4 linked regions of the Homo sapiens genome follow. The protein of the gene in region 2 purifies or fractionates together with the protein of the main gene of each other region. This does not show direct contact. Each region holds a gene or a part of one and is shown on either strand. Other genes may lie near its edges. The genes, in order: HMGCL, IBA57, MCEE and CZIB.

Region 1 (7,935 bases), about 200 Mb from region 2:
TTCACCATGGCCTATAGGACTCTGTATGCTGCTGTATGTATGTTAGAAGTAGTTTAAAAAGGCCAGGTATTGCGGGGGGCAGTGGCTCATGCCTGTAATCCCAGTACTTTGGGAGGCCGAAGCGGGCGATCACTTGAGGTCGGGAGTTTGAGACCAGCCTGACCAACATGGTGAAACCCCATCTCTACTAAAAATACACAAAAAATAGCCGGGTGTGGTGGTGCACGCCTGTAACTCCAGCTACTCAAGAGGCTGAGGCAGGAGAATTGCTTGAACCAGGGAGGTGGAAGTTGCAATGAGCCAAGATCGTGCCACTGTACTCCACCTTGGGCGACAGAGGAAGACTCCATTTCCAAAAAAAATAAAAAAAGGCCAGGCACGGTGGCTCATGCCTGTAATCCCAGCACTTTGGGAGGCCAAGGCAGGCAGATCACTTGAGGCCAGAGGTTCGAGATCAGCCTGGCCAACATGATGAAGAAACCCCGTCTCTACTAAAAATAGAAAAATTAGCCAGGTGTGGTGGAATGGACATGTAGTCCCAGCTACTCAAGAGGCTGAGGTGGGAGAATCGCTTGAGCCCAGAAGGTTGAGCCTGCAGTGAGCTATGACTGTGCCACTACACTCCAGCCTGGGCAACAGAGCGAGACCCTGTCTCAAAAAAAAAAATTAAATGACTCTATATGTCACTTGATGCTTTCCAATTAAGAAAAGAAAAGACTGTATGAGTTGCCTCCTCTGACCTCCTGGAATCATCACTCGCCCCTACTGTCCACTCCCAACCTCCACCCAACAGGTTGCTAAGCTCCCTGCCTTCTCTTCCCTCTGCCCCAGGGTTCCTCATCTGGCTTTTTTTAAAAAAACTGGCTGTTCTTACATCTCTCTCTCATCTTTCAGTTGCAGAGAGGCTTCCTCTGACCACCCTTTGCAAAGCTGCCATTCCTCCCACCCCCATTATTTTCGCTATTGCAGAGCTATAATTATTTCCTTCAAAGCACGATAAAGAATGCCTACTCAATGTCTCTTCCAGTAGAACATAAGCTCTTTGAGGGACCTTGTCTGTCTCAACTCCACTTCATCCCTAGTGTTTGGCACCGTGTTTGGTACAAAGTAGCCACTCTTTAAAGTTATTAAAATAACACATAAACCATGAAGGACACAGCTGTCCCAGAAGAGAGCAATTACTGAGTGTGGGGAGGAGTAGTCAGTCCTGGACTTTTCGGGGTATGGGCGAGATGCAGGAGGGCTCTCTTCTGTTACAGTCATAGGCTGGGTGATGACAAGCATGGGTCTAAGGGGAGGTGACACCCCCAGTAGCTGAAGACAGTTTTTACAAAATGCCCTGAGTCTCCTCTATATAAAGTCAGCTCAAAATCTTAGTCTTCCCTATCAAGTAACACAATACTTTTTTTTTCCTCTTTCCTCTACCTGTCTTGATACTGTAACTTTTCAAATCAACTTTGTTTTACAGATTTAATCTGGATAAATATACTACAACGAGGCAAAGCGGAAGGCACACTGTGTGATCCGCTAAGGATCTCAACCCCCTGAAGTCCCCCAGGAATTCCCTGCTAGGAAGCAGCTGGAACATGTACAACTCACCTGACTGGCCTTGTTTTAGCCAACAAGCTTTCTTAGAGACTAAGGCGATGAGCCATTGAATTTCATGACGTCAACAGGCTAAGTTGGAAGGTCCCTGCAACTTGAATCTCCCTCCAACAGGGATGTTCAGCCTCTGCTAGTATATCACCCTAAAACTATCTCACTGGAACATAAGTTTCATGAGACAGGGACTTTGTTTTATTCAATGCTGTATTTCTAAGGCCCTGGGACATAATAGGGGCTCGATAAATAACAGTTGAGTGTTGCTGAAATAATCTAAAACCTGCTTCAGGCCAAGCGTGGTGGCTCACGCCTGTAATCCCAGCACTTTGGGAGGCCGAGGTGGGCAGATCACCTGAGGTCAGAAGTTCGAGACCAGCCTAGCCAACATGGTGAAGCCCTATCTCTACTAAAAACACATAAATTAGCTAGGCATGGCAGCAGGTGCCTGCAATCCCAGCTACTCGGGAGGCTGAGGCAGGAGAATTGCTTGAACCCAGGAGGAGGAGGTTGCAGTGAGCTGAGATCGTGCCATTGTACTCCAGCCTGGGGTACAAGAGCGAGACTTCTTCATCTCAAAAAAAAAAAAAAAAAAAAAAGCTTCTAAAACCTGCTTCCAAGCTGCTTTTATTAGAACATTATAAACTCAATTCCACTTCCTTCCTTCCCCGTAACAGCTCTTCACATAATAATTCAGTTTTTAAACACTTAATATTTGCCAGGCACATACAAGAGCCATTTACATATTTATTTATTTATTTATTTATTTGAGATACAGTCTCATTCTGTCTCCAGGCTGGAGAGCAGTGGCGCGATCTTGGCTCACTGCAACCTTCACCTCCCAGGTTCAAGTGATTCTCCTGCCTCAGCCTCCCGAGTAGCTGGGACTACAGGTGCGCACCACCACACCTGGCTAATTTTTTGTATTTTAGTAGAGACAGGATTTCACCAGGTTGGCCAGGCTGGTCCCGAACTCCCGACCTCAAGTGATCCACCCACCTCAGCCTCCCAAAGTGCTAGGATTATAGGCATGAGCCACCACGCCTGGTGAGCCATTTACATATTAACCCATACTGTCCTCTCAACAATCTTATCAGGTAGGAACTATCATCATCCCCATTTTACTGTAAGAAATCTAAGGCCCCACTTGGGAGGCTGAGGCAGAAGAATCGCTTGAACCTGGGAGGCAGAGGTTGCAGTGAGCTGAGATTGAGCCACTGCACTCCAGTCTGGGTGACAGATGACAGAGCAAGACACCGTCTCAGGAAAAAAAAAAAGAAAGAAAAGAAAAGAAATCTGAGACCCAAAGAGATTAAGTAATCTTCCCGAGGTGACATGGGGAGTTACTCACTGAGGCAATATCTAAACCTGGCAGTGTGGCTCTAGAGCACAAGCTCCTAACCTCTGGGCCACTGTTGCCTCTTTACCACCGTTCGTTCGGTCCACAGTCTTCTCCTGGTTAAACATCCCGTTCCTCCTCTGTAAAGCTCTGCTCAGAGAGGGTCCCCCTAACCACACAAGTACTGTGCCACAGTGTCCTGAGGTATGGTGTACCTGCATCAACACCAACAGCGAATACTGACTAAACCCAGTGTTAAACTACAGGCCAGGGACTATTATTATCCCAACTCCGTAGGTGAAGAAACTAAGCCTCAGAAAGGTTACCCAAAAATCACAATTAGAAAGTGACAGAGCTTGGACTTGAACCCATATCTAGGCCTAATACTAATACTGGTTCCTATGCTTGGAACCCCATGGAGGGCCATCTCATTACACCAAATATTTCTTAAAAGCTTATTAATATCTACTATTGCGTTTAACTTTCCAAGTTGGAATTGCCATCTTCATTTTACACATGAGCAGGTGGTGCAGGTGAATGGCCAAGTAAAGATATTAACGTGGCTTTCTGAGAGGGACCCAGTGCCAGGAGTGTATTTTTCCCTCTATACAGTTATAACTCCTTCTCAACTCCCTAAGGTAAAAATACCACCACCGACTGATCACTTATTAGGAGCCAGAACACTGCCAGATGTGTTACTTACATTTTCTCTAATTTCCAAAACAACCCCAAGGGAATGTTGTCCGTTTTACAGACGAAAGAGCTGAGGTTTAGAGAAAGTAAATAACTATGTCATTAAGTCTAGAAAGTGGCAGAACTATTGGGACACCCTAGCTTCAGCTTTTATTTTTTCTGCTCCATACAGCTACGTCTCCCACACTTTTTCTGCGCTGAGAATGGGAGAGGGGAAAACATCAGGATCGAACAGGATCAAAGTGCAATTCCAAGGGAATCACAGCTTGGCTCCAATCAACGCAAGTCCCGCTCGGTAGGCTGGGATAGTTCCCCAAGCATCTCTAAAAGCAACAACAGTTGGAAATGGAGACGAAGGAAATGGAAGCGTGTTCTTGATTTTCACTAATGAAGAGTTGGAGAGGTCTGAAGTTCAATTAGAGGGAGAAAGGGGCCAGGGTCATCGGAAAGGGCCCTGGGCGGGGAATCAGGGCACCTAGGATGGCGTCCCAGGTCTCCATGACCCAGACAAGTCACTCCACCTCTCCGGACCTCAGTTTTCCCATCCCCTTCAAAGGATTTGAGGGGAAAAGGGAGGGTCCAGGACTCCAACGCCCTCCCGACTCTGGCCTGAGAGCTGTCCGGCCTCGCCTCTAAGAGAGCAGTCACCACGGGCCAAGCCCCCAACCCTGACAGTCAGAGTGCCTGCAGGGCCGCCGCCTCGGCGGCTCGGGGCACTTACAGCCCGGAGGGACGCCAAGCCCACCAGTCGCCGCGGAAGCGCCTTCCTCATTGCTGCCATCTTGGCCCAGAATCCCCCGCGGCAGTCCAGCTGGGCCCCGCGTGACCGATGGCTCGTCTGGTGGGCGCGGCCCCGCCCCCGCCCCTCCGCCGTGACTTCCGAAGCTGGCTCCACCCCCAGCCTCTCTCCGTTTTGATTCCGAGCGCCTCTTCCATGCCAGGCCAAGTGAGACGCTAGGAATATAAAGATGAACAGAATCAGCCTGGACACCATGTAATCCTAGCACTTTGGGAGACCGAGGCGGGTAGATCACCTGAGGTCAGGAATTCGAGACCAGCCTGGCTAACATGGCGAAACCCCCGTCTCTCCAAAAAATCCAAAAAAAAAAAAAAAAAAAAAAAAAAAAAAAAAAAGCCGGGCGTGGTGGTGGGCGCCTGTAATCCCAGCTACTTGGGAAGCTGAGGCAGGAGAATTGTTTGAACCCGGGAGGCGAGGTTGCAGCGAGCGGAGATCGTGCCACTGCACTCCAGCCTGGGCGACACAGTGAGAGCCTGTCCAAAACAAAAAACCCAAAACCAAACAAACAAAAACATGAAAAGAAATTAACCAAATTCTGTGGCTTCTTGTGTTTAGAGTGTGGGAGGTGTGAGGAGACACATATTAATAGTTACACAAACAGTTGTGTCATTTCTAACTTGCACTATAAGAAGCAACGATTTGCTACTCACTGTTCCGAGTTCTTAGCACGGATTAACTCACGCATCACGATCTTCAGGATTCAAACACAGGCAGGCAGCTCCAGAGAGGGGGCATCCTTAGATTTCATACCTTAAAAAAATGATTAAGATTTATCTAGGTGTACTTTCTGAAGGGCTGAAAAAAAAAAAAATCTATCCAGGTGAAGAGGATACAAGAAAAACTTTCCAGACGGTGTAGCATTCGCAATGGCCCTGAGGCAAAGAAAATGCTGAGAACACTGTTTTTCTCTCTTTTGTTTTGTTGGTTTGTTTTGTTTGTTTGAGATGGAGTCTCACTCTGTCACCCAGGTTGGAGTGCAGTGGCGCGATTTCGGCTCACTGCAACCTCCGCCTCCCGAGTTCAAGAGAGTCTCGTGCCTCAGTCTCCCGAGTAGCTGGGATTACAGGTGTGCACCACCACGCCTGGCTAATTTTAGTGTTTTTAGTAGAAACGAGGTTTCACCGTGTTGGCCAGGCTGGTCTCAAATTCCTGACCTCAGGTGATCCGCCCGCCTTGGCCTCCCAAAATGCTGGGATTACAGGCGAGAGCCACCGCCCCCGGCCAGAGCACTGTTTTCAAACTGTATGTTGTACCCCACTAATTGGTCACAGTATCAATTTAGTGGGTACAAACTTTATTTAAAACAAAGAACTAGAATTTTATCTATCTATCATCTATCTATCTATCTATCTATCTATCTATCTATCTATCCATCTATATTTATTTATTAAGACGAAGTCTCACTGTGTTGCCCAGGCTGGAGTGCGGTGGCGTGATCTCGGCTCACTGCAACCTCTGACCCCGGGGTTCAAGCGATTCTCCTGCCTCAGCCTCCGGAGTAGCTGGGATTACAAGTGCCCATCACCGTGCCCAGATAATGTTTGTATTTTTAGTAGAGATGGAGGATTTCACCATGTTGGCCTGGGCTGAAGCAATCCACCCTCCTCGGCCTCCCAAAGTGCTGGGATTACAGGCGTGAGCCACTGTGCCAGGCCCCAAATATAAAATATTGCTCTATAAAATAATAAAAGAGTGATCTAAAAAAATAAAAATAATAATAAAAGAGAAAAGGCTGGGTGCAGTGGCTTACACCAGTAATTCCAGCACTTTGGGAGGTCGAGGTGGGAGGATCACTTGAGGTCAGAACTTGAAGACCACTCTGGCCAATAAAGTGAGACCCCAAGTCTATTCAATAAATAAGAAAAATAGCCAGGTGTGGTGGCTCATGCCTGTAATCCCAACACTTTGGGAGGCCGAGGTGGGCGGATCACTTGAGGTCAGGAGTTCGAGACCAGCCTGACCAACATGGTGAAACCCCGTCTCTACTAAAAATACAAAAATTAGCTGGGCATGGTGGTGCGTGCCTGTAATCCCAGCTACTCAGGAGGCTGAGACAGGAGAATCACTTGAACCTGGGAGGCGGAGGTTGCAGTGAGCCGAGATCACGCCACTGCACTTCAGCCTGAGTGACAGAACGAGTCTCTGTCTAAAAACTAAATAAATAATAATAATAAATAAGAAAAATATTAGAATACAATGTATAAAAGTAGTAAAGCCAAGTACTGCTTTGCAAAACTTTTGTTCATTATATATATCAACAAGGTTGCAATGTAAAATAAATTTCTTACTGTGGGCTGCACTTGGAATTGTTTGAAAACACCTTTTTAGCAAGATGAAAAGAAGGCTGGAATGATTGGAGAGCGGGGAGGGAGTAGGAAGGGGACTTCCTACTAAGATTGGAGAGTTTGGCAGGAACTGTCACAGGGCTTTGGTGAACACACTAATACCAGCTGTCCTAATAGCAGTGATTTTGAATGATTTAGAGTAGGGAAATCTGATTGAATTTGCATTTTTAAATAGTCACAGGGGCTACTGGTTGGATGTTAATTGTGTGTCTGGTATTCTCAGGGAAGGCAGTGAAGGCACTTTCCTTGACTTTAAGGAGCTCAGATTTTATCTAGGGAAAAAACAAGACATGATAATTATTCTGTTAGGCTTCAGCAGCACTGGAAATTTTCTCTATCATGACACTGGGAGCATTACTCACAGAATTCTCAAACCTGTGTTAGAGGGCTGCACTCGGCCCAAACATACTGGCATGGTATTATTTAAAATATGTCTTTCAAGACTTGTACACTGAAAATTATAAACCATTGGTGAAAAAAATTAAAGAAGACATAGTGGTAGGACATCCCATGTTCATGAATTGGAAGACTTAATACTGTTTTTTAGTTTGTTTGCTTTTGCTTTGAATTTTTTAATTTTTAATTTATTTTTATTGTTATTTATTTTATTGTTTGTTTACTTATTTATTTATTTTTGAGACAGAGTCTCACTCTGTCACCCAGGCTGGAGTGCAGAGGCGCAATCTCGACTCACTGCAACCTCCGCCTCCCGGGTTCAAGCGATTCTCCTGCCTCAGGTTCCCGAGTAGCTGGGATTACAGGCACCTGCCACTACGCCCAGCTAATTTTTGTATTTTTAGTACAGACGGGGTTTCACCATGTTGGCCAGGCTGGTCTCAAACTCCTGACCTCAAGTCATCCGCTCTCCTCGGCCTCCCAAAGTGCTGGAATTACAGGCGTGAGCCACCACACCCAGCCTTTTTTTTTTTTTTTTAGATGGGGTCTCACTCATTCTCTTGCCCAGGCTGGAGTGTAATAGTGCAATCATAGCTCACTGTAGCCTCAGCCTCCTGCACTCAAGCCATCCTCCCACCTCAGCCTCCTGAGTAGCCGGGACCACTGGTGCATGCACCATCACAACCAGCTAAGTTTTAAATTTTTTGGCCGACAATGGTCTTGCCATGTTGCCCAGGCTGGTCTTGAACTCCTGGGCTCAAGTG
Region 2 (7,442 bases):
CACAAAGCTCTGACCCTGCCGATGCGCTTTAGGGCCTGCTTCCAAGGTCCTAAAGGCCAGGCCTTTCTGAGAGGACTAAGGACATTTTGGTGAAAACTGATTTGGTTTGTATGACAGAGGGGCTCTTTTGTTGACTGACACTTTCCTTTTTAAAGACACAGAAGAGGCTGGGCACAGTGGCTCATGCCTGTAATTGAGACCATCCTGGCCAACATGGTAAAACCCCATCTCTACTAAAAATACAAAAATTAGCCGGGCATGGGGCATGTGCCTGTAGTCCCAGCTACCCAGGAGGCTGAGGCAGGAAAATCACTGGAACCTGGGAGGCAGAGGTTGCAGTGAGCAGAGATTGTGCCACTGAGCTCCAGCCTGGCCAACAGAGCAAGACTCCATCTCAAAAAAAAAAAAAAAAAAAAAAAAGGACACAGAAGAACACGAAATGTGTTTGATCTGAACCAAGTATTTTGAGATCCTGACACCTGCAGAGACCTGAAGACACTGAGGGGGCACAGGATGGCTCAGGCGGCACCTCACTCTGGAGTGGAGTGCTTCCTTCCTGGCTCACCTCCTAGCCCTCACCCAGCCACACCCACGGGACAGGCTAGGATGCTCCCAGATGCTGCAGCACTCAAGGAGGCCCCACTGGAAAAGCCAGGCAACTTCAGGCAGATGACAGAGCCGGGACACTTTGAGCTCGAGGCACAGACCCTCATTCCAGGGGTGCATGCCCCTCATGCAGGAGACACCAGCTCTTGGTGACACAGGCCACAGGCACCCACTCCTGGCTGAGCTGGAGAGAAAACTGGCTGGGAAGCTGATCAAATGTCTCCATGCCAGTTTAAAGCAGCAGCCAGTGGGGCTGAAAAGGTTGCAGGGATGCTGGTCTGGAATCCATCCTGCGCTGGGCGCTTCCAGACCATGACCTGTCCAAGAGGGGCTGAAGGCCACCGGCTCTCAGGACCGCAGGGGTCAGGGCCACCTAGCTGTTTCCTTGCCCATAGGAGAGCTGACTGCAGCGGGTGAGGCTGGACGGCCCCTCTCTTCCCTCCAGCTGCAGCCGCTTCCTCCCGTCCATCCGCTCTACACCCTCCTCCTGGGTGATCACAAACTACACTGCAGCTCAGAGCTGCCTTTAGACCCCTGACCCCAAAACCGCCATGGCTGCAGATTTCTAGAGAGCACCTGTGGCCCCCCAGGATGGCGGCACAGGCTCCCTGCCTGCTTGGCCCTCTGTGGCCACCCTAACGTCCAGCTTGGTGGCCCAAACGCCTGCCCCCCAGGCCCTGCGCCCTGCAGCCGACAGCTCACAGCCATGGGGCTGTCCTTTGCAGACTCGGCACCCACGTGCCCAGCCTGGGCCTCTGAGGCCTCCCCTGCTGGCCTGCAGCCATGCCAAGTGCTTCATCTGGTAGGTCTGGGCGTTCTCAAAGGAGCGCTGTTCCCGGGGTCCAGTCAGCCAGATCACAAAAACTAAGCCCCCACCTCCCTCTCCCCCAAATGAAACCAGAGCTCCCAAGGGGCTGCCTGTGGCTCACTCTTTAATAGATGCCCTGAAACATAGAGCTCACACTTCAGTGGGAAGGGGGAAGCCAGTGGGTGAACAGGAGGCTGTGCCCCGTGACTGACAGCAAGTCACTCTCACTGCAAACACAGGCTATGCCAAAACCCAGCACACACAGGCAGAACTCTGCCCTGCTGGCTCCTGAGCCCTGCGCTGGCCCCCACCCCACGCTCCTGGAGGGCTCTGAGGAGGAACAGAGGTGGGGAAACATGGGAGATGGGCACAGCCTTCCACAAGCCTCCAGCATGGGATACCTAGTGGCTCATCCCTGTGTGCTTCTCGATGTGTAGACACCCACATGCCACCTGATCCAATGCCCCAGACCCCTCTAGACCACGCATAGCCCCACCCTGAGACATGCTGGAAGCAAGCACAGTGAAACAACTCCCAAAGCCCGAGCCCCAGCCTGCAGACCCTGGACACCACCCCGCTTCCAGGCACAGGGACCAACCCCCCATGAGGCTCATGCCAGGCAGAGTGGGGTACAAGGCCCGGAAGCTGCCAGTGCTGGCCAGAGACACCGTCCCGTCCTCCCAGACAACCCTGTGTGGAGCCACGATTGGGACCCGGCGCCATCTGGAGCCCAGCACTCACACGGTGGGCTCCTCTGGGGCCACAGGAAGTCCAGGGAGAAAACAACCCACGTGCCTGGGGCCCCTGAGCATGGGTGGGGCCAGGCAGGGCACCTACAAGGGGGACTTTCCCAGATGGAAACCAGGGCTCCCACCCAGTAGGCGCAGCAGACAGATGGGACGGGAAGACCCTGGACAGAGGCCAAAGGCCCCAGGCCCCAGCCTCCCCATCAGCCTGCGCCAGCCAAGGCTTCGGACTACTTGGAGACTGTAGGCCACCAGTCTGGCACAGATGCGGCTAAGGCCACCTGGGCACCCTCAGAGGCTCTGATGTGCAGAGGACCCTTGATCTTCTCTGACCACAGCAGGGCCAGCCCCACGTTGCCCTGGCCAGCCCTGAACTTGCCCACAGTCTGTCCTGAGGCAGTCAGCACCGTGGCACCAGGGGTGATGCCACTGGTGGGAAGGGGGTCCAAGAACCGGACAGGGAAGAGGCGCTTGCGGATGACGCCCATGTGGTGGGTGCGGGCCGTCAGCTCCTGGCCAATGTAGCAGCCTTTGGTGAAGCTCACGCCGTTCATGAAGGCCAGGTTGGACTCCAGGGGCAGGGCCACCCCAGGAGGCAAGTCTCGGACCCCCTCAGGAACGCCTGCAGGGATTGGAGGGGGGAAACCAGCGAGAATTGAACATCGTCCAGCTCCACCCGTGCAATCCAGCCCAGCGTGCCCACCCCACCCATACCTTGCAGGTATCGGTGCTGGTGATAATCCCACAAGTCCCCGAGCCGGCCCCCGGGCACCAGGGCTGGGCCTTCATCCTGGGTGAGGAGCCGCCACCCCATGCGTGCTGTTCGCGGGTCGCGGATGAGGATGGCGGCAGCCCCTGCCCTCTCCTGCAGCGATGCAGCCCCGCAGGCCTCAGGGGAACTGGGCAACACCGCCCACACTCGCAGCTCCGGGTGCGGCTCCACCGTGACCTTCCGCCGGATCCTGTATAGCGCGAGGTGCTTCTGCAGCGCGCCCTGCACCGAGCTGTCACACTCCAGAAGGAAGCCAGACACCTCCGAGTGTTCCTGGAGCCTGCAGGGAGAGAGGCAGGGGCGCATGGCAGCTCACCAACTGAGTGGGCCAGAAAGGGCTGCATGAGGGAGCGCGCCTTACCCGGGCAGAGGAGCACACCGTGGACCAACGCAAAGAGCTCTGCCCTCAGCCACAAGGGGCTGCGCCTTTAAGGCAAGCGCCCAGGTCACCACACGCAGGGAGCCACGCCCACAGCGAGCCACGCCCACAGCGAGCCACGCCCACAGCGAGCCACGCCCACAGCGAGCCACGCCCACAGCGAGCCACGCCCACAGCGAGCCACGCCCACAGCGAGCCACGCCCACAGCGAGCCACGCCCACAGCGAGCCACGCCCACAGCGAGCCACGCCCACAGCGAGCCACGCCCACAGCGAGCCACGCCCACAGCGAGCCACGCCCACAGCGAGCCACGCCCACAGCGAGCCACGCCCACAGCGAGCCACGCCCACAGCGAGCCACGCCCACAGCGAGCCACGCCCACAGCGAGCCACGCCCACAGCGAGCCACGCCCACAGCGAGCCACGCCCACAGCGAGCCACGCCCACAGCGAGCCACGCCCACAGCGAGCCACGCCCACAGCCACACCAGGCAGCACCTCCCAAGGCGCGCATCACAGCTAGATGCGGGCACCTTGGAGACCAGCGCAGAGTGCCGCGCCCACAGCAATGCGAGGGTGCGTGCAGACAACGCACAGCAGGCCAGGCAGGGTACACCTGGACCAGCGCATGGAAAGCCCTGCCCACAGCCGTGCGCAGCTGAGCCTCCGGAGCTCTCGTCTAAGCAGGCAAAGACGAGCTCACAGGGGCCAGCGCAGACAGACCCTGTTTGCCCAGGGACTGGCAGAACTGCAATAGCCTGCCCGAGGGCATCATCCGGAGTAGTCCCAGAGCCTAGGGCAGAAATGACAACAGTCCGCTGGATGTGGGAGCAGGGATGGGCAGGGCCCCGCAGGGGAACGGTGTGCACAGCCACTGAGAACCAGACCTGCCTGTTCCAGCCCAGGGAAGCCATCGAGGAGCCCAAGGGTCCTAAGGTGGGCAGGAGGGAGGAGCAAGGAGCCCAGGAGGTTGTCAGGGAGGTACAGCATGCCTGAGGCCCACTCTGCCCATGCCCACCACCTGCCTCCCCAAGCCAAGTCTCAGAACCCAATCGGGGCCCCAGAGCCATTCTGACCTGCACTCCAGGCAGCCCTCCTCAGAGGATTTGGGCAGGCACCACAAGAATGACCCCTGACCAGACGGATGGTGGGAAGAGGAGAGGCTGGGCAGCGTGGGGCATGTCGGGGGGGGGGGCACTAAGTGGAGACACCTGGGGTACAGCCACCTCCATGGCTGGGGTTGATTGCAGGTATGGACTGCACAGGGCTTCACAGGCTGGTGGGAGCTGAGACAGGGAGGTAGTAAGACCCCCAGAGGGCCTTCCAGAGACAAGCCCAAGAGCAGGTGGCCCAGCCCCTTCCAGCCAGGAGAGGGCTCAGTCCTTGCCAGTTGCCCAGGGCTTCAGGTGCCAAGCAGGGGCCTGCTGCCCTCATCTCTGCAGTCTCACTCTACCCTGTGGTCATGCCCACGTGCCAGCAGCCACGGAGAACGTTCACGCTCATCACCCAGAACCAGTAGGCACAGGTCTCACTGAGGACCCTGCCGCAGGGAGGGTGGGCATAGCCAGCTGTGACAGCCAGTGAATCTGGCCCACACTCCAGGACAGCGGTCACAGGACATCAAAAACAACACCCACAAGGGAGGGGAACATATGTCATTTACACACGTGGGCTAAGATGACGGGAGGAACAGCAAGGACAGCACAGAGGGGCAGCCGCAGGTGTGCCGCGGAAAGGTCACCACGCCACCAGGGAAACACAGGCGATGTGGCCCAGACAGATGCAGTGGTGAACCTGAACACTGGCCAGCATGAGGAGAAACCAGGTCACTGGCATGCTGCTGGTGGGGAGGCAAAACGGGTGGCCCTCTGGAAGACAGGGTGCAGGTCCTCACAACACCAAACAAGCAACTACTCCACGACCTGGCCCTCTCACTTCCGGGCATGGATCACTGAGAAACGAAGACTGCAGCTCACACAAAACCTGCAGCGAAAGCTCACAGCAGCCAGCTATACTGGTAACAGCCAGAAAGGGAGAATCAAGGTGCCACTACACCATGTGGGACTTCTCAGCAAGAACAGGGAGCTGGAGATGGACAGAAGTGGGTGGATCTGAGGGCACTATGGTGAGGGAAAAGGGTAAGGCTAAAAAGTGACAGGCCGATGCATCCATCTATGACACTCCTGAAATGACACGATTTTACAGCTGAGAACAGGTTTTGGGGTGTTGGGGGTGCCCATTCAGGGGCAGGAGCAGGAAGCCGCGTGGGCCTGAGAATGGCCACAGATATTCACACGTGATAAAACTGCAGTTATACACATGCGTGCACAGACGCACAAAGTAAGACACACAAATCCAGAGACCCCAGATATGCCCTGTGTGTGCAATCAGGGGAACTGGGGAGGGGTCCGTGCGATCTCTCCCACGGGTTTTGTTTTGTTTTTTTTTTTGCAACTTCCTGTGAATCTATAATTATTTCAAAATAAGAAGTGAAAAAACAACAACAACAACAACAAAAAAAAAAAACAAGGAGCTTCGCCTGCAGAGGTGTCCGAGCACTACAAGAGGAAAGGCAGCAGGCAGTCCTTTCATCCCAGCCATCTGACATCAGCGAGTTTTTAACCACGTGCATGCATATTTGTATTTTTAAAATCTATAGTGGGGTCAGCAGACAAAGATGGACCAAAACACAGGTGAGTGGGGGACCCGGGCAGAGGGACAGATGTGAGGTCATGGGCACAGGATGCTGGGCGCCGGACAGGCAGGGAGGAGCTGAGCGACGCCAGGCAGTAGAGGGACAGAGTAAGGGGACTAGAGTGGAGCTGAGGGACCACAGGTCCAGGGTCTAGTGAGCCAGGCACACAGGCACAGGGGAGGCCGCAGAGCCCTACAGGGCAAGGGCAGGAGCTGGGGCAAGGCAGGCAGGGTGGGGCCAGGGTGCCCCATGGGTCCATCAGTCAAGAGTGGAGCCCAGAAAAGATCAAGCTGAGGGCCCCTGCACTCTGAGGTGGGGCCAGCTCAGCTGCCTGCCTTGGCAGGAACCCCCACCCATGCTGACACCCCCTGCTGCCCCCATCTGCTGAGCACTCCCTGGCCTCACACAGGGTGGATGTCCTCACAGGACCCAGGTTCTGGGGTCGAGGGCACTTTCCAGCTCTCTGTGCCGGTGACTGTCTACCAGGCAGCTTCTCAGGACCAGCTGAGCTGGGACATGACCCCCGGGCCCACCCCAACCCCTGCCACACCTGAAGACTGCCAGGAGACTTGCCTCACAGGAGAGCCCCGGCCTGGGGAGCTTTCTCAGCCTCATCATTCTCCATAGTGGGGGCTGTCCAGATGCTAAGCAGCACCCCTGGCCTGTACCCCACCCCATCATGACAACCAAAAATATTTCCAGATACCGCTGAGGGGCGCAGGGGACAGGGTTGCCAAAGAAAATATAGGGTACCTGGTTAAATCAGAATTTCACATCGACAACAAATTACTTTTTTTAGTATATCCCAAATACCGCATAGGATGCACCTACAGATCATCCGTTGCTCGTCTGAGACGGACCTGGGTGTCCTGTGCTTTTGTTTGCTGAGCCCAGAAGCCCCGGTGGGAGCAAGGGTGCAGGAAGAGGAGGGAGGTCAGGGGTGGCTCTGGCCCAGCCAACTGAAAGAAAGGGTCCCCTGGCCATCAGATCCAAGGGTTTCCAGTCATGTTCAGGAAAACACTGCTCTGGGACCCGGCCTGACTCCTTCCCTTCTCTCTCCTCCCTCCTCCCCAGGCCACCAGAGGCCTGACAAGTCTCTCCTGCTCCTCAGTGCTGGCCAGACACAAGGCCACAGCCCTGACACTCTTGGGCCTGCTGAGCCCTGCACTGAGTCCACATCCTTGCCCCGGCCAGCTCGCAGCAAGGCCACTGGACCACAATCCTACCTGCAACATGACCCTACAGCCTCTCTCTGCCTCCTACATGAAGAGAGATCAAAACCAACTGATAGAAAGGGACCCTAAGGAGGCCAGGCATGGTGGCTCATGCCCGCAATCCCAACACTTTGTGAAGCTGAGGCAGGAGAATCGCCTGAGCCCAGGAGTTCAAGACCAGCCCGAGCAACATAGTGAGACCTCAACTACCTGTAGTCCTGGCT
Region 3 (7,985 bases), on a different chromosome or scaffold from region 2:
AGCATCTACTAAACATACTGTTTTGCATTTCTTGTGATCACATTTCATTCTTCTTATGAAAGCAAAATTTTATTGATTCATAGATTAAAGCAATAAATACCTTTTATAAAAAATGATTGCTGTATTTCCAAGTTCATGCAGCTCAGGATGTATTTTACTTCTCTTGAGACTTCCTCTTTGACAACTTACAAGTTTGGGGAGGTTTTTCTGTTGTTATTGATTTCTAGTTTGATTCATTTATGGTCACATATTTTATATGTTTCACTTACTTTAAATGTGTTAGAGTTTGTTTCATAACCCAAGATATGGTCTATCTTGGTGAATGTCCCATAAATGCCCAAAAAATGTGTATTACGTATTGGCTGATAGTACTGTTCAGTTCTCCCACGCACTTGCTTTTTGTCTAGTGGGTTTATCCATTACTAAACAAGGGGTGTTGAAGTCCCCAACTGTAAACTGTAAACTTGTCCATTTTTTCCTTTTAGTTCTATCAATTCTTAGATCATATACTTTGCAGCTGTGTTATTTGGTTAATGCACACCTGTTGTCTTTTTGTGATCTGACCTCTTCATCATTATGTAATGTATTTCTTTGTCCCTGGCAATTTTCTTTTGTCCTAAAGTCTACCTTGTCTGATAGTAAGTCATCCACTCCAGCTTTCTCTGAATTACTGTTTGCAAGGTGTATCTTTTCTATCCTTTTACTCTTAGTTTATTGATATTGAGATTTACTGATAAATCATTGTTAATTTACTGATATTTTGAGTTTCTTGTAGTTAGCATTTGGTTGGGTCAGGTTTTTAAATTCACTCTCACAATCTTGGTGTGTTTAGACCATTTACATTGAATGTAATTACTGATATGTGAGGTTATAGGTCAGTCATTTTATTGTTTTGCTTTTTTCCTGTTTCCTCTTACCTGTCTTCAAGTGGGTTATTTGGGCATTCTTTAGTAGTCCATTTTGATTTATCTACATTTTTGAGTGTATCTCTTCATATAGTTTTTCAGTGGTTACAGACTGCAATACACACATGAAGTTTACTGCAGTCTACTACTATCAACATCTACCACTTGAAGTGGAATGTGGATATTTAACCACCATTTAAGTCCCTTTTACTGCCCCCACTCTGTGATGTAATTGTCTAAAATACTTCCTCTACATACACTGAGAACCACATCAATGTTGTAATTTTTACTTTAACTTTTAAATGAAAAGTATAATTGGATATTATACTTGTCTTCCATAACAAGTTCAATGTCTACATATCTACTCATTTACTCAACATCCACTCATCCATGAACTTGTTAGCCACTTTTCCATCCACTATGCATTCAATGCATCCATCTGTAATCCTTGAAATTCATCTGAAACTTGTTTCTAACATATTTGAGTCTGACTATCCTCTGAGATCTATTCTCTCTTTCCTTTCCTTTTTAATTCATTCAGATGTTGTTTTGTAAGTGTTTACATTTATTTCAAGCAGTACTCTCCCCAAATGAACCATAAGCATCTTGGCAGTGGATTTCTATTCATTTTGTATATTCCCCTAGGACCTGTTGTGGTGTTCTAGCATCTACGTGATACCTAACTCTACAAATTACTACTGATTTAAAAAAATAATTCAGACATCTACATGCCTACTAGATGACGCACCAGGTTTTCCACAAAACTTCCTATACATCTAGCCCTAGCACCCAAAACACCTGGACCCTGAGGAAACTGTGACCACGAGTTGTTTTTGAAGAGCAAAACTTCTGAGATTAAAATTCCCTAATCTTACACAGCTTGCTCTAAAAAAGTATTCCAAAACATTCTTAGAAACTTTTGCCCCAAATATTAGCCACAAAATTGTCATACTTTCATAACTCCTTTGTGTATCCATCCATCACACACATACCCTTGTACACAGCTAACACATTACATTCAATTACCCCATTGTAGAAGAGGAATAATTTATTTCTATATGATTTTAATAATGTTCCCTAAGTAATTAGTAATCAAGATTTTCTTCAAATTCAAATTAACAAATATGTTTGTTAATCTAAATAATATACATATTTATGTATTTATATATGTATATATTTTAATCTTTCTGTAATTCAGTCTTTAACTGTGAACTTTTACATGATGGAAGCAGTGAAGGACTCAATGTCATAGTACATTTTGATAGTATTTGATAGGCTTTTTCAGGTCAATTAATTTAGTTGCTTGCAAATATAAATCAAGCTTGCTCCAGTTCCACAAGGACTCCACCACAGTCTTTAGGATGGAGAAAAATCACTGGTTTTCCATGTGCTCCTATTTTGACCTCTTCACTTAGACTGCGGATCTTCTTTTTTTTCAAATCCATCACAGCTGCATTAATATTATCCACCTTAAGAAAGGGAAATAAATTGAACACATTTGAGATCATAAAAATACCAACTTATAGTATCATAAGACTTAGAAAAAACTTTGAGAGCTCATGCAGTCTATCTCCTCTGCCTGTGGGCAGGACCATTCTTAAATCATCATAAAAAATAAGCTTAAAATTTTCAGAGAAGTAAGAGAAGTTACTAAATTTTTCTAGGTAAGCAACCACAATGCTCAGAATTTTCACCATTAGTAAATGTTTCTTCTTATAATCTAAATCATGTATGATATACTTTATAATAGTTTATTCTGGCAGTACTATTAGTGAGATTGAAGACATTGCTTTTTCCTGAGAACCCTGGGTCCTCATCTATAACAGGCAAATGAGGTCTACCACATAAATTGACTACAGATTAAAATGAGGTAACAGATAAAAAGCTTTCAGTACAGTTTATGGCATAATAGGTACTTAGCAAATATGAGTGTTTCCCTGATCCCCAAAACTTGCCCTGCCAAAACACCTGGTTATTACCTTTGACATTATCAAGACACACATGAAAATCACTATTAAATTGCCATCAAAATGTTATTCCCCACCCAAAAAAATTTCAAACTTTAATGTTTTTGCAGCCTCTTCTAAGTTATTTCTATTTTCTTCATACTTATGGACACTCTAGGAGGAGCAGATGTGTCTCTCTATACTTGACGGAGAAATGATCTGCCTCTATCTTGGAAAGTCACCCACTTAGACTGGGAACCTAAGAAATGGATGAAAAGGTATGATATGAATGGCCACATTCCTAGGCAGTCATAAATCACTAGTTTAATTAAAATCACTAGTTTAATTAAAAAAAACACACAAAAGCACAGAGACTAGTTTAACACCCATGTACCTACCATTCAGATCTAATAAATATTAGTATTTATACAATTTTATTTCCAAAGAGCCAAGGATTATATGCTGAATTCTAAAACCAGTCAAACAGCTAATGAGGATACTAAATGTTACATAAATAAGCTATGATTTCTTCATATGGCACATATTCTACTTGTATTCCTGATATTTCTTTTTTAAACCTCATAGATATGTCAAAGTCACACGTGCCTAGATTCTGAACACAGCTCATTTCATGACATCTTGCACTGTAGCTGGTTAATTCTCATCTTTTTCAGAATAGAACATGCACTAGAAGCTCGTGGCAGGAACGGCTCGACCCACTTAGTGAGGAAAATTGGTCCTCACTGATGTCAGACATTGTCAATTTTATCTTATTTTTAAATTCATATCAATATTATTAAGCTTTTCTTCTGCTGCGTTAGGTGGGATTGGAGCAGCTTTTAGTCTAGGACTAATTTTCCTCACTACCAAGCCAAAGCCCTTCTGAGTACTCTTCCCAATGTTACGGAAATTACTATGACTAGTAAGAAAAAACTATCCCCACCTCTGTGTGTGGATTATTCCCTCTAATCCTTTCAAGGGGTTCTATTCTAGCTTCCTAACATGCGTGCAATACTCGAAGCTCCGATGAAGACATGAAAGGTACTACAGATCTTTAGAGTTCACTCTCTGTGCAGCTCTCCTTTCCAGGAGAGAGCTGTGAACTCTAGCACCATGGCCTCCTCAGACTTCCAACTCCTATCTCCGCAACTCAGGGAGACCACTAAGTTCCACGTGGATTCCCCCTTCCTGCACTGCAGTCTGGAAACTCTCTACAGCCAGTAAACTGGGTAATTGTAGGGCTCATCTTGTTTGTTTACCCTCTCTCAGAAATCAATTCCTGTGCTGCCTGATGTCCAATGCCAGAAATCCATTATGTCATGTATTTTGTCTAGGTTGCTTGTTTGTTTCAGGGAGGATAAACTGATCTCTTTTACACCAACTTGGCCGGAATCAGATTTCTAAATTGGCAGGTTTTTTCTGTCAGCAACTAAAAAGTGTCATTACATGTCATTCTATAATATGTCTTTTTTACTTTGATTGCTTTTAAGATTTTCTTGTCATCTTTGATTTTCAGTTTGACTATGGTGTGCTTAGGTGTGGTTTTCTTTCTTTTGAGACAGAGTCTCACTCTGTCACCCAGGCTGGAGTGTAGTAGTGCGATCTCAGCTCACTGCAACCCCTGCCTCCAGGGTTCAAGCAATTCTCCTGCCTCAGCCTCCAGAGTAGCTGGGACTACAGGCACACGCCACCATGCCCAGCTAATTTTTATATTTTTAGTAGAGAAGGGGTTTCACCATGTTGGCCAGGATGGTCTCGATCTCTTGACCTTGTGATGTGCCCGCCTCTGACTCCCAAAGTGCTGGGATTACAGGCGTGAGCCACTGCACCTGCCTTTTTTTTTTTTTTTTTTTTGAGACAGAGTCTCACTCTGTCACCTAGGCTGGAGTGCAATGGCATGATCTTGGCTTACTGCAGCCTCTGCCTCCTGGGTTCAAGCGATTCTCCTGCCTCAGCCTCCTGAGTAGCTAGGATTATAGGCATGTGCCACCATGCCTGGCTAATTTTTGTATTTTTAGTAGAGACTGGGTTTCACCATGTTGGCCAGGCTGGTCTCGAACTCCTGAACTCAAGTGATCTGCCCGACTTGGCCTCCCACAATGCTGGGATTACAGGCGTGAGCCACTGTTGCCCGGCCTGGTGTAGTTTTCTGTTTGCCCTACTTGGGGTTGCTGACTTTCTTGAAACCATAGAGTGATGTTTTACATCAGATTGGTAGTGTCCTTGTCAACTATTTTTTCAATTACTGCTTCTGTTCTATTTTCTCTCTCTTCCTTTTCTGGGACTCCAACTATATTCTGCTAGAACTTTTGACCATGTCCTACATCTGTCTTATGCTCTATTCTGTTTTCTTTTTCTTCCATATTTTTTACCTCTTGATTTTGGAATTCTAGTTTCTAGAACTGTGAAAAGAATAATTTCTGTTTTAAGCCACTAAGTTTGTGATCATTTATTATAGCAGCCCTAGAAGACAAATATAACTACCACACATCATACCGAAATTGAACAACGAAGTAGATGGATGGCTGATAGTGGGAGCTAAGTTTCTCACTGTTGGAATGAGAAGATAAAGGCTAGTGTGGTCTATGTGGTAATGGATTAGAGCTGGAGACGTCAGTATGCTCTGAGGAGTTTATGACATTTCATGAATTCTATAATATAGTTATATACAGAAATGTGTATAGATATGTGTATATATACAGTATACACACATATATATCTCCCTGTTGTCCTGGCTCAGTAGGGCAAGAACCAATGACACACCCAGTAGCAATAAGCACACTTAGAACCTAGATCTTGGCTTCTAATACCATTCTCCAGTAGTAGGAACCAGGGCTCCTAGATGAAATGTCTAATTATATGGCTAGGGCAAAGAGTAAAGAAGATGAATTTGGAGCATCTCATATAGAAGATGAATTTGGAGTATCTTACAGTGCCAGAAAAAGAAAGGAAGTGCTTAAAAAACAAACACAAAACACAAAACCAAAAATGATCGGGGTATGTCAAAGGGACATAAGAATCAACTGAAAGAGCTCCTAATGGCCAAAGCTGGAACAATCTGAGGGGAAAAAAAGTAGTATTAGATTGTAATGCAAGTCATAAAATAAATATCCACAAGTCCATACTGATATAACTCTCTATTCCTTAAGTGTGGGCCTTGCATAATGACTTCCTTCCAAAAGAGGATAGTATGGAGGAGAAAAAAAGAACAGCTTTCCAGTGGAGAAACCTGACAACACCTCCTCACCTGGGAGATCAAGGTTAATATCAACAGTAGTAAGTCATGTTGATAGTATGAATCCTTGATATGATGTGATGAAAATGACACTTTACCTCTATGGTCTTCCCAAAATCAATAACATGAGTCTAATAAGAAAAATATCACACAAATCTCAACTGAGGGACAGTTTACAAAATAACTGAACAGTAATCTTCAAAAGTGTTAAGGTCATCAGAAACAAGGAAAGGAGATCCTAGAAAAAGGTTAGAAAACAAAACAAAACAAAAAAACAAGGAAAGTTTGAGAAACTGCCACATGCAAGAGGAGCCTCAGCAGATACGATGACTAAATGTGATGTGCTAGGGGTGGAGGAGTGGGGGAAGGGAGAGCATCAGGATAAATAGCTAATGCATACAAGGCTTAATATCTAGGTAATGCATTGTCAGGTGCAGCAAACCACCATGGCATACGTTTACCTATGTAGCAAACCTGCATGTCCTACACTTGTATCCTGGAACTTAAAATAAAATTAAAAAAAAAAAATGTGATGTGAAATCCTAGATGGGATCCTGGAATAGAAAAGGGACACTGGGTAAGAACTAAAGGAATCAGAATAAAGTACAGACTTTAGCTAATAACAATGAATTGGTATTGGTTCACTAATTGTGATAAATGTATCAAACTATTATAAGATGTTCATAATTTTTTTAAAGCATCTGATGAGATTAACCACTGTTTATAATGAGTGGATCTTGTTTTTATCCTGATTAGAGCAAATCAACTATAAAAAGACATTTGTAAATCAATCTGGGAAATTTAATTTATGAGCTGTGTATAGATGGTGCCAAAAGATTTCCCTTTAATTTTGACTGAAGTGCCAGAAAATAAAGATGATGTCACCGTGGTTATTTTTGTATTTCTTAGAGACCCAAACTGAGTAAGGGTAAAATGACATGTTGTTCATTTAAAATAATTTAAGGAAAAAAGAAAAAAAGATGACGTGTAGCAAGAGCTTGAAAACTGTTGAACCTGGGTGATGAAAGTACTGACATGATTTTTTTTCTACTTCTCATATGTTTGAACAATTTCATGATATAATCATGACTTTTTCCATAGTGCCCTTTTGATAACTCCTATGCTACATGTGATTATGAATATTTTCATTTATGGAACATTCTATCCAAGTACAAGTATCTATAATTTTGACATTGCAACCCAATGTTTTAGTATACTCCTTCTTCAATATCCCTCAATCATGAATTACTTCAAGCCTGGGCACAGTGTTTCATGCTGGGCACAGTGGTTCATGCCTATAATCCCAGCACTTAGGTGGGGCCAAGGTGGGAGGATGGCTTGAACCCAGGAGTTTGACACCAGCCTGGGAAACATAGTGAAGCCCCATCTCTATAATCAATCAATCAGTCAGGTGTGGTGGCACACACCTGTAGTCTTAGCTACTCAGGAGGCTGAGATGAGAGGACTGCTTGAGCCCAGGTTGAGGCTGAAGTGAGCTATGATGGTGCCACTGCACTCCAGCCTGGGTAACAGAGTGAGACCCTGTCTCAAAAAACTAATAAATGTCTAAATGACATTGCACTAGCATCTACTTCTACTTCTGTTACTATTTCTATCACTAACTTCAATTTTAAAGCTCTTTTACCATATTTATCCTTCTGTTAGTGTTGCTATACATTTTATGATTCTTTTAAGAGTACTCCTAATGCTTTGTTTGGCAGTAATAAAAAGAATAAAATTAAAATGTCTTAATTTTCTGAATTGAAAGTAGATGCAATAGTTGTAAGAAATGCAGAGCAATTTGATTTGGGAAATTAAATCAGTCCCTCTAAGTAAGGATGAAAGTAACACAGTCAGTAATAACCCATCTTTTAAAAAAAGGGAGGTTTTCAAACACTG
Region 4 (6,700 bases), about 170 Mb from region 2:
ATACAAAGAGGTGCTCTGAGGCCTTTGTCAGGGAGCCCTCCAGGCACAGTGCTGGTGAGCTTCAGCAGATGATGGTTGAGTGCTCCAAGTACCATGGCCAGCTGACCAAAGAAGCAGCAATGGGTGAGGCAGGGGTGGGGAGCATGCCCTTGGGTCTTGTCCTCAGTGCTTGGGTAAGCAAGCCTAAATCATTCTACTCCAAATCTGATTTCTACCCGTTCACTAGGTTTAATCCATCGCCAACTCCCCAAATTTTTCTTTTCTACCCTAGCAGTCTGAACAGCCACACTAGCCACTAGGGATCAGAATGTTCTTGCCTCCTAAGCAGGGGTGGGGAAATGCATGTGTCTTTGTCCTCATTTAAGGTCACTTTCAGCTGTGACGCATTAATTCTTTTTTCTTTCTTTTTTTTTTTTTTTTTTGGAGACAAGAGTTTCCCTCCGTCCAGGCTGGAGTGCAATGGCGTGATCTCGGCTCACTGCAACCTCCACCCCCAGGTTCAAGTGATTCTCCTGCCTCTGCCTCCCAAGTAGCTGGGATAATAGGCACCCGCCACTACACCTGGCTAGTTTTTGCATTTTTAGTAAAGAAGGGGTTTTGCCATTTTGGCCAGGCTGGTCTTGAACTCCTGACCTCAGGTGATCCATCCCTCTCAGCCTCCCAAAGTTCTAGGAATACAGGCGTGAGCCACCGCACCTGGCCTTTTTTTTTTTGGAGACACGGTCTCATTCTGTCACCCAGGCTGGAGTACAGTGGTGCAATCATGGCTCACTGCAACCTCAACTTCCTTGGCTCAAACAATCCTCCTGCCTCAGCCTCCCAAATAGCTGGGACTATAGGCATGCACCACCATGCCCAGCTGATATTTTAATTTTTTTTTTTTTTTGAGATGGACTCTTGCTCTGTTGCCCAGGCTGGAGTGCAGTGGCACAATCTCAGCTCACTGCAACCTCTGCCTCCTGGGTTCAAGCGATTCTCCTGCCTCAGCCTCCTGAGTAGTTGGGACTACAGGCTTATGCCACCATGCCCAGCTAATTTTTATATTTTCAATAGAGACGGGGTTTCACTATGTTGGCCAGGTTGGTCTCAAACTCCTGACCTCATGATCTACCCGCCTCACCCTCCCAAAGTGCTGGGATTATAGGCGTAAGCCACCATGCCGGGCCTAATTTTTAAAATTTTTTGTAGAGATGAGGTCCCACTGTATTGCCCAAGGTGGTCTCAAACTCCTGGGCTCAAGCAATCCTCCTGCCTTGGCCTCCCAAAGCACTAGGATTATAGGCATGCACCACTGCACCCAACCTTTTTCTATTACTGATTGGTTATCAGACTCACTTTTGAAAATTTAGGATTTCTAAACTTACGGCCCCACTAGCTTCACCTCAGTTGTAATGTGTCTGCTCTCTGTAAACAGGTTATCTCAGAAGCTCTTCTCAATTGTCATCCGTCATTACCTTTTTTTGATAAAATTCAAGACCTGGAAAGGACCTGGAGGGTCATAGTTGTCCTTTCATGTTGCTATGAAGTGCTGGAAGTGAAAGGGACCTCCAAGACATTCTAATCTTCTCTTCCTCCATTTTATAGGGAGAAAACCAAGCCACTGGCCCCGTTACACAGCAAGTTAGTAGTAAGACTGAGATTCGAACCCTGGTCAAACAGACTTTCCATTTTGTTCCACTGACTCAATCTTCTCTTTTACACTTGAATCAGACTTTTAGTTTTATTGTAGTTTTTGAGTCCATAGCTGTCTTCCTGTACTGTCTTGACTCTTTGACTAAACTGATTTCACATCTTTAAAATTATGCTTTCCTTTTAGGCTCATTTTTAGCTCAGCTGTTGACAGCTATTTTTAAATGTAACATGACATAATATATTTCCTAAATAATTTAAAATAATCTAGCTTGAGCTGCTCTGAAGGTTAGTCAGTTGGTGGTGTGCATAGAGGTAGAGCCTTCCCCCACTCTCAAGGATGCTGTGAGGGGTATTCCTACCATGTGGTGAGTTGGGAGGTTTTCCTGAGGTCCTTTTCCATCCTGAGACTCTGGTTTTCCATTTTGTTTCTCACAGGCCAGGGCTTTGACCGACACTTGTTTGCTCTGCGGCATCTGGCAGCAGCCAAAGGGATCATCTTGCCTGAGCTCTACCTGGACCCTGCATACGGGCAGATAAACCACAATGTCCTGTCCACGAGCACACTGAGCAGCCCAGCAGTGAACCTTGGGGGCTTTGCCCCTGTGGTCTCTGATGGCTTTGGTGTTGGGTATGCTGTTCATGACAACTGGATAGGCTGCAATGTCTCTTCCTACCCAGGCCGCAATGCCCGGGAGTTTCTCCAATGTGTGGAGAAGGCCTTAGAAGACATGTTTGATGCCTTAGAAGGCAAATCCATCAAAAGTTAACTTCTGGGCAGATGAAAAGCTACCATCACTTCCTCATCATGAAAACTGGGAGGCCGGGCATGGTGGCTCATGCCTGTAATCCCAGCATTTTGAGAGGCTGAGGCGGGTGGATCACTTGAGGTCAGGAGTTTGAGACCAACCTGGCCAACATGGTGAAACCTTGTCTCTACTAAAAATACAAAAATTAGCTGGGTGTGGTGGCATGTGCCTATAATCCCAGCTACTTGGGAGGTTGAAGCAGAATTGCTTGAACCCAGGAGGTGGAGGTTGCAGTGAGCTGAGATCACACCACTGCACTCCGGCCTGGGCGACAGAGCGAGACTGTCTCAAAAAAACAAAAAAGAAAAAAAAACTGGGGCCTGTGTAGCCAGTGGGTGCTATTCTGTGAAACTAATCATAAGCTGCCTAGGCAGCCAGCTACAGGCTTGAGCTTTAAATTCATGGTTTTAAAGCTAAACGTAATTTCCACTTGGGACTAGATCACAACTGAAGATAACAAGAGATTTAAGTTTTAAGGGCATTTAATCAGGAGGAAAGGTTTGGAAAACTAACTCAGGTGTATTTATTGTTTAAGCAGAAATAAAGTTTAATTTTTGCTTGAAGATGGTTCTTAATTTCTTTTAACCTAATTCCTAATCCTCACAAAGATCTTTCCAACAGCAAGTTCAGTAAGTTCAGGTAACAGTACGTCACCATTGGCTTCTGGCTCATTGAGTGATGGTGGGATCGCGGTTTCATCTCTGTAAACTTGCCCTTGACTGGGGAGATACCATCTCCTTAAAAATACTCTTCATTTTCCTAAGGAGTGAACTGCTGCTGCACGAATTCTTATTTGTGGAGGGAGTAGCTGCCTCCTTACTTCACCTTCATGCACCAGTGCAGCGTGAACAGGGGCTTTATTGATGGGGCTTGGGAAGCTGTAATAAAGTCCAGCATGCAGATTGTGAAGGTTTCGTATAGCCACCAGGAGACAAGGGTCAAAGGAACGAGCCTCTGTGGGCTCTGCTGCTTAGAGTACTTTGTCCTTTCTCAGTTCTTAAGGGCAACTGGGAAGGAAGAGGGATCAGCACTTCACAAACTGGTGGGTGACCTCATAGATTCCCACAGACTCCTGGGCCTTTTCATCATAGTCAGTCCAGTCCTGGGAAACAAAATGGCATTGTTAGCCTCACAACGCAGAATGCAGCCATGTGGAGAGCAGAAAACTGGGACTTAAAAGGCCCAGCTCAGGCTCTGACTCAAATAATCATGAACATGTATGACCCTGAACAGAGCCAGATAGCTCAGGCCTGAATTCTAGCTCTTTCAGTTGTATGACTGTGGGCAAATCACTTAACTTCTCTGAGTCCCTTCTCCGAGTCCTGTCTTCTATTTAAAAAAAACAAAAACAAAAAAAGGACAATGGAGTTCATATTGAATGTTGAAAGAATCAAATGAGGTAACACATTTAAAAGCACTCAGCAGCCGGGCGTGGTGGCTCATGCCTGTAATCCCAGCACTTTGGGAGGCCAAGGCAGGTGGATCATTTCAGGTCAGGGGTCCGAGACCATCCTGGCCAACAAGGTGAAACCCGGTCTCTACTAAAAATACAAAAAATAGCCAGGAATGGTGGCAGGCGCCTGTAATCCCAGCTACTTGGGAGGCTGAGGTAGGAGGATCACTTGAGCCCAGGAGGCAGAGGTTGCAGTGAGCTGACATTGCACCACTGCACTCCAGCCTGGGCGACAGAGTGAGATTGTCTCAAAAAATACATAAAATAAAATAAAAGCACTCAGCATAGTGAGTGCCTGGCACATGTAAGAGCTCAGTAGATGCTAGCTGCTGTTATTAGGTGCTGAGCAAATGAAATGAAGTTTTTGTCCTTCCTTCAAGGCTTGAGCACAAGGCTTTTCTATCTGCAGGGTAGTAATATGTCCAGTAATACAGACTATTTCTTGTTCTTCATGGTAGTTAGGTGCAGTAAAGCCACCACAAACACTGAATTAGGGAATACTGAATGAATACTCCCCGGGGAAATACAGGGTTAGGTTCCTATGAGCCTCTGGTCACATTTTCATCAACCAATCAATAATCTAGCTTTATGTGTTTCTGTTTAAAGATAACTTATTTAATATATATTGTTGATTCATGAACTCACAGCCAGCAGCACTATAGCTCATGCCTGAATAAAGCTTATCTAACACGTATTCTCTCTGTAAGGGGCATCATAGCTTTCTCATACGTAGGAACATTAGAAAGCACTTTAGCACTATACCTGTGGCCATTTCAACAGCAAAATCACTAACAAAAAGCACAAAAATACAGAGTTGGCTTTCCATTGATGAGCCTTGTCCACCAAAAAAATAATTCCCACCAGGTGCCCTACAGTACCTCCCAAAGCCCCCAAGTCTCATACCTTCTCCTGCAGATTAATGTCACTGAAGGCTGTCCCTGACTCCACACCTTCAGCAGCAAACCCAGCCTGCAGGGCACAAGAAGGTACCAGTTAGTCTTGGCAAAAGAAGGCATTGGGCTATAAGTAAGGGCCGGCCAGGCTGCTGGCTCTTCTCACACTTCTGGGATGGAGGACAGAGATGCAGTATGAGTACCTGTCTTGGAATAACTGCTGAGCTTCCAGGACCCGGCAGCTGCCTCAGAACTAGAGTGGTGGTTTCTCTGAATTACAGCCTTGGACCAGAAGGCAGCAGGGGCAGCGTAATCCCTTCCACTAGCCCTGGTTTGCTGAAGGCTCCTGGGCATGTCATTTCCCAGGTTGGACCTTAGTTATTGATAAAACGGGGATGAAGTATTTGCTCTTCTGCCTACCTCACAGATTTGTTGTGAGGTGAAACATGCACAAATAAAGGGGGATGAGCACCAGCTCAAGTCAGATAGATCTGGGTTGAAACTATAGCTCCACTGCTTACTGTGTGACCCTGAGCAAGTTGCAAAATCTCTTCAGTTCCTTCCTCATCTGAAGAACAGGATGAATAAATTCATAGGGTTACCATAAGAATTAAATGTGGTAACATGTAAAAATGATGGCATGGGTGCCCAAGCATACAGCAGCCACTTAAGGGACAATTATTACTACCGCTAGAAAGGAGAATGTCTAGTCCATGGTATCTGTAGGTAGCACAGTTCTGGCTGTCACTTCATACATCCCCTCCCCAAAGACAAAGATTCCCCAGAAAGATACACACACACCTGCGGCTGGAAATCAACTGGTTCAAGGCCCCGGCACTCAAACTCCACTATTGTCTTGAAGTTCTCATTGTCTTCAGCCTAGAAAGGAAGTGTGTTGAGGAGGCAGGCCCAAATGAGCTCTCAGGATGACCCCATGGCCCCTCTCCTTCCTGCCAAATGGGCACTTACTGCCCCTGGAGGCCTAGTATGAGACCCAGGAAGAACTCATCCCCTTCTTAGAGGAAGCCTGCCTTGGGCACCTGCTCCCTATGAAGCTTTCTGTAGACAGCAGACATGGAGGCTGCAGAAGAGCGTGGATGCTGGGGTCAACCTGCCTGGATGTAAGGTAAGCTCTGCCTATCTTCCCCTCTGGGCCCAAGATTCCTAAACTGTCAAATAGAGCCGAGGAAACCTCTACAATTTTACTGTCAGATTTTGAAATGCATATAAAGTGCCCAGCACAGTGCTCAATAAATAGTAAATAAAATTATCAACACCAAAAATATGAACAAGAATGTTAAGCTCCAAAGTCTCTAGATCATCCAAACAGACCCAGTACACTTAACCATAGCCTTTTGCTGACCATCTGCCATGCAGTAAGGGCAGAGGGCTGTCTTATAGCCTTTGAAATGGTTATGTATGTGGAGGGGGCACCTCTTGGGGGGCAGGTGGCCAGGAAATTCATGCCTACCTGACCTATGGGCTTAGGGACCACAAGTGCCATGCCCTACATTCAGTCTCATCCTGTCATTCACTGTAAAGTAATTTCCTGCACACTGACCACATCTCTGGCACTGGTAAGGCACTTCTCTGTTAGGGCCCTAGTTCGATTCTTGTTTTTTGTATTTTCCACTAGATTATTATGTACGTGAAGGCGAGTCCTCATTTAATTTCTCTTTAACTTCAGGACAAAGCCAAGAATTTGGCACAACTCAAGATACTTTAAATAAATACCAAATAAGGAATAGGTGAATACATATAACTGGCTTTCTTTAAACAAACAGATCCAAAGCACACCCTCCCTCACCTTTGGGCTAACTTGTTAACACTGATGATATAAAGGATGGGATGCACCAAACGACTACCCCACCCATGGTTTCAGAGAAAGCTTGCTAGTCCCCTAAAATGAAGACAAG

The links.
Region 1: the proteins of IBA57 (region 2) and HMGCL purify together in Homo sapiens (co-immunoprecipitation; one large-scale study listed by IntAct). This does not show direct contact.
Region 3: the proteins of IBA57 (region 2) and MCEE purify together in Homo sapiens (co-immunoprecipitation; one large-scale study listed by IntAct). This does not show direct contact.
Region 4: the proteins of IBA57 (region 2) and CZIB fractionate together in Homo sapiens (co-fractionation; one large-scale study listed by BioGRID). This does not show direct contact.

The regions. Positions count from the first base shown.
Region 1 is NC_000001.11:23,821,004-23,828,938, forward strand, and holds the start of HMGCL (hydroxymethylglutaryl-CoA lyase, mitochondrial isoform 1 precursor), read right to left. Parts: upstream 4,427-7,935; 5' UTR 4,413-4,426; coding exon 4,353-4,412; intron 1-4,352. UniProt on the Homo sapiens protein: Mitochondrial 3-hydroxy-3-methylglutaryl-CoA lyase that catalyzes a cation-dependent cleavage of (S)-3-hydroxy-3-methylglutaryl-CoA into acetyl-CoA and acetoacetate, a key step in ketogenesis. Terminal step in leucine catabolism.
Region 2 is NC_000001.11:228,170,462-228,177,903, reverse strand, and holds part of IBA57 (iron-sulfur cluster assembly factor IBA57, mitochondrial isoform 1 precursor), read right to left. Parts: intron 3,335-7,442; exon of another isoform or gene 3,294-3,334; intron 3,213-3,293; coding exon 2,875-3,212; intron 2,783-2,874; coding exon 2,391-2,782; 3' UTR 1-2,390. UniProt on the Homo sapiens protein: Mitochondrial protein involved in the maturation of mitochondrial [4Fe-4S]-proteins in the late stage of the iron-sulfur cluster assembly pathway. Operates in cooperation with ISCA2 in the maturation of [4Fe-4S] proteins.
Region 3 is NC_000002.12:71,107,749-71,115,733, forward strand, and holds the end of MCEE (methylmalonyl-CoA epimerase, mitochondrial precursor), read right to left. Parts: intron 3,111-7,985; coding exon of another isoform or gene 3,090-3,110; exon of another isoform or gene 3,015-3,089; intron 2,375-3,014; coding exon 2,222-2,374; 3' UTR 1,939-2,221; downstream 1-1,938. UniProt on the Homo sapiens protein: Methylmalonyl-CoA epimerase involved in propionyl-CoA metabolism.
Region 4 is NC_000001.11:53,211,197-53,217,896, forward strand, and holds the end of CZIB (CXXC motif containing zinc binding protein), read right to left. Parts: intron 5,664-6,700; coding exon 5,586-5,663; intron 4,861-5,585; coding exon 4,795-4,860; intron 3,541-4,794; coding exon 3,463-3,540; 3' UTR 2,903-3,462; downstream 1-2,902. Other genes in the region: CPT2 (carnitine O-palmitoyltransferase 2, mitochondrial isoform 1 precursor), read left to right, coding at 1-123, 2,068-2,399.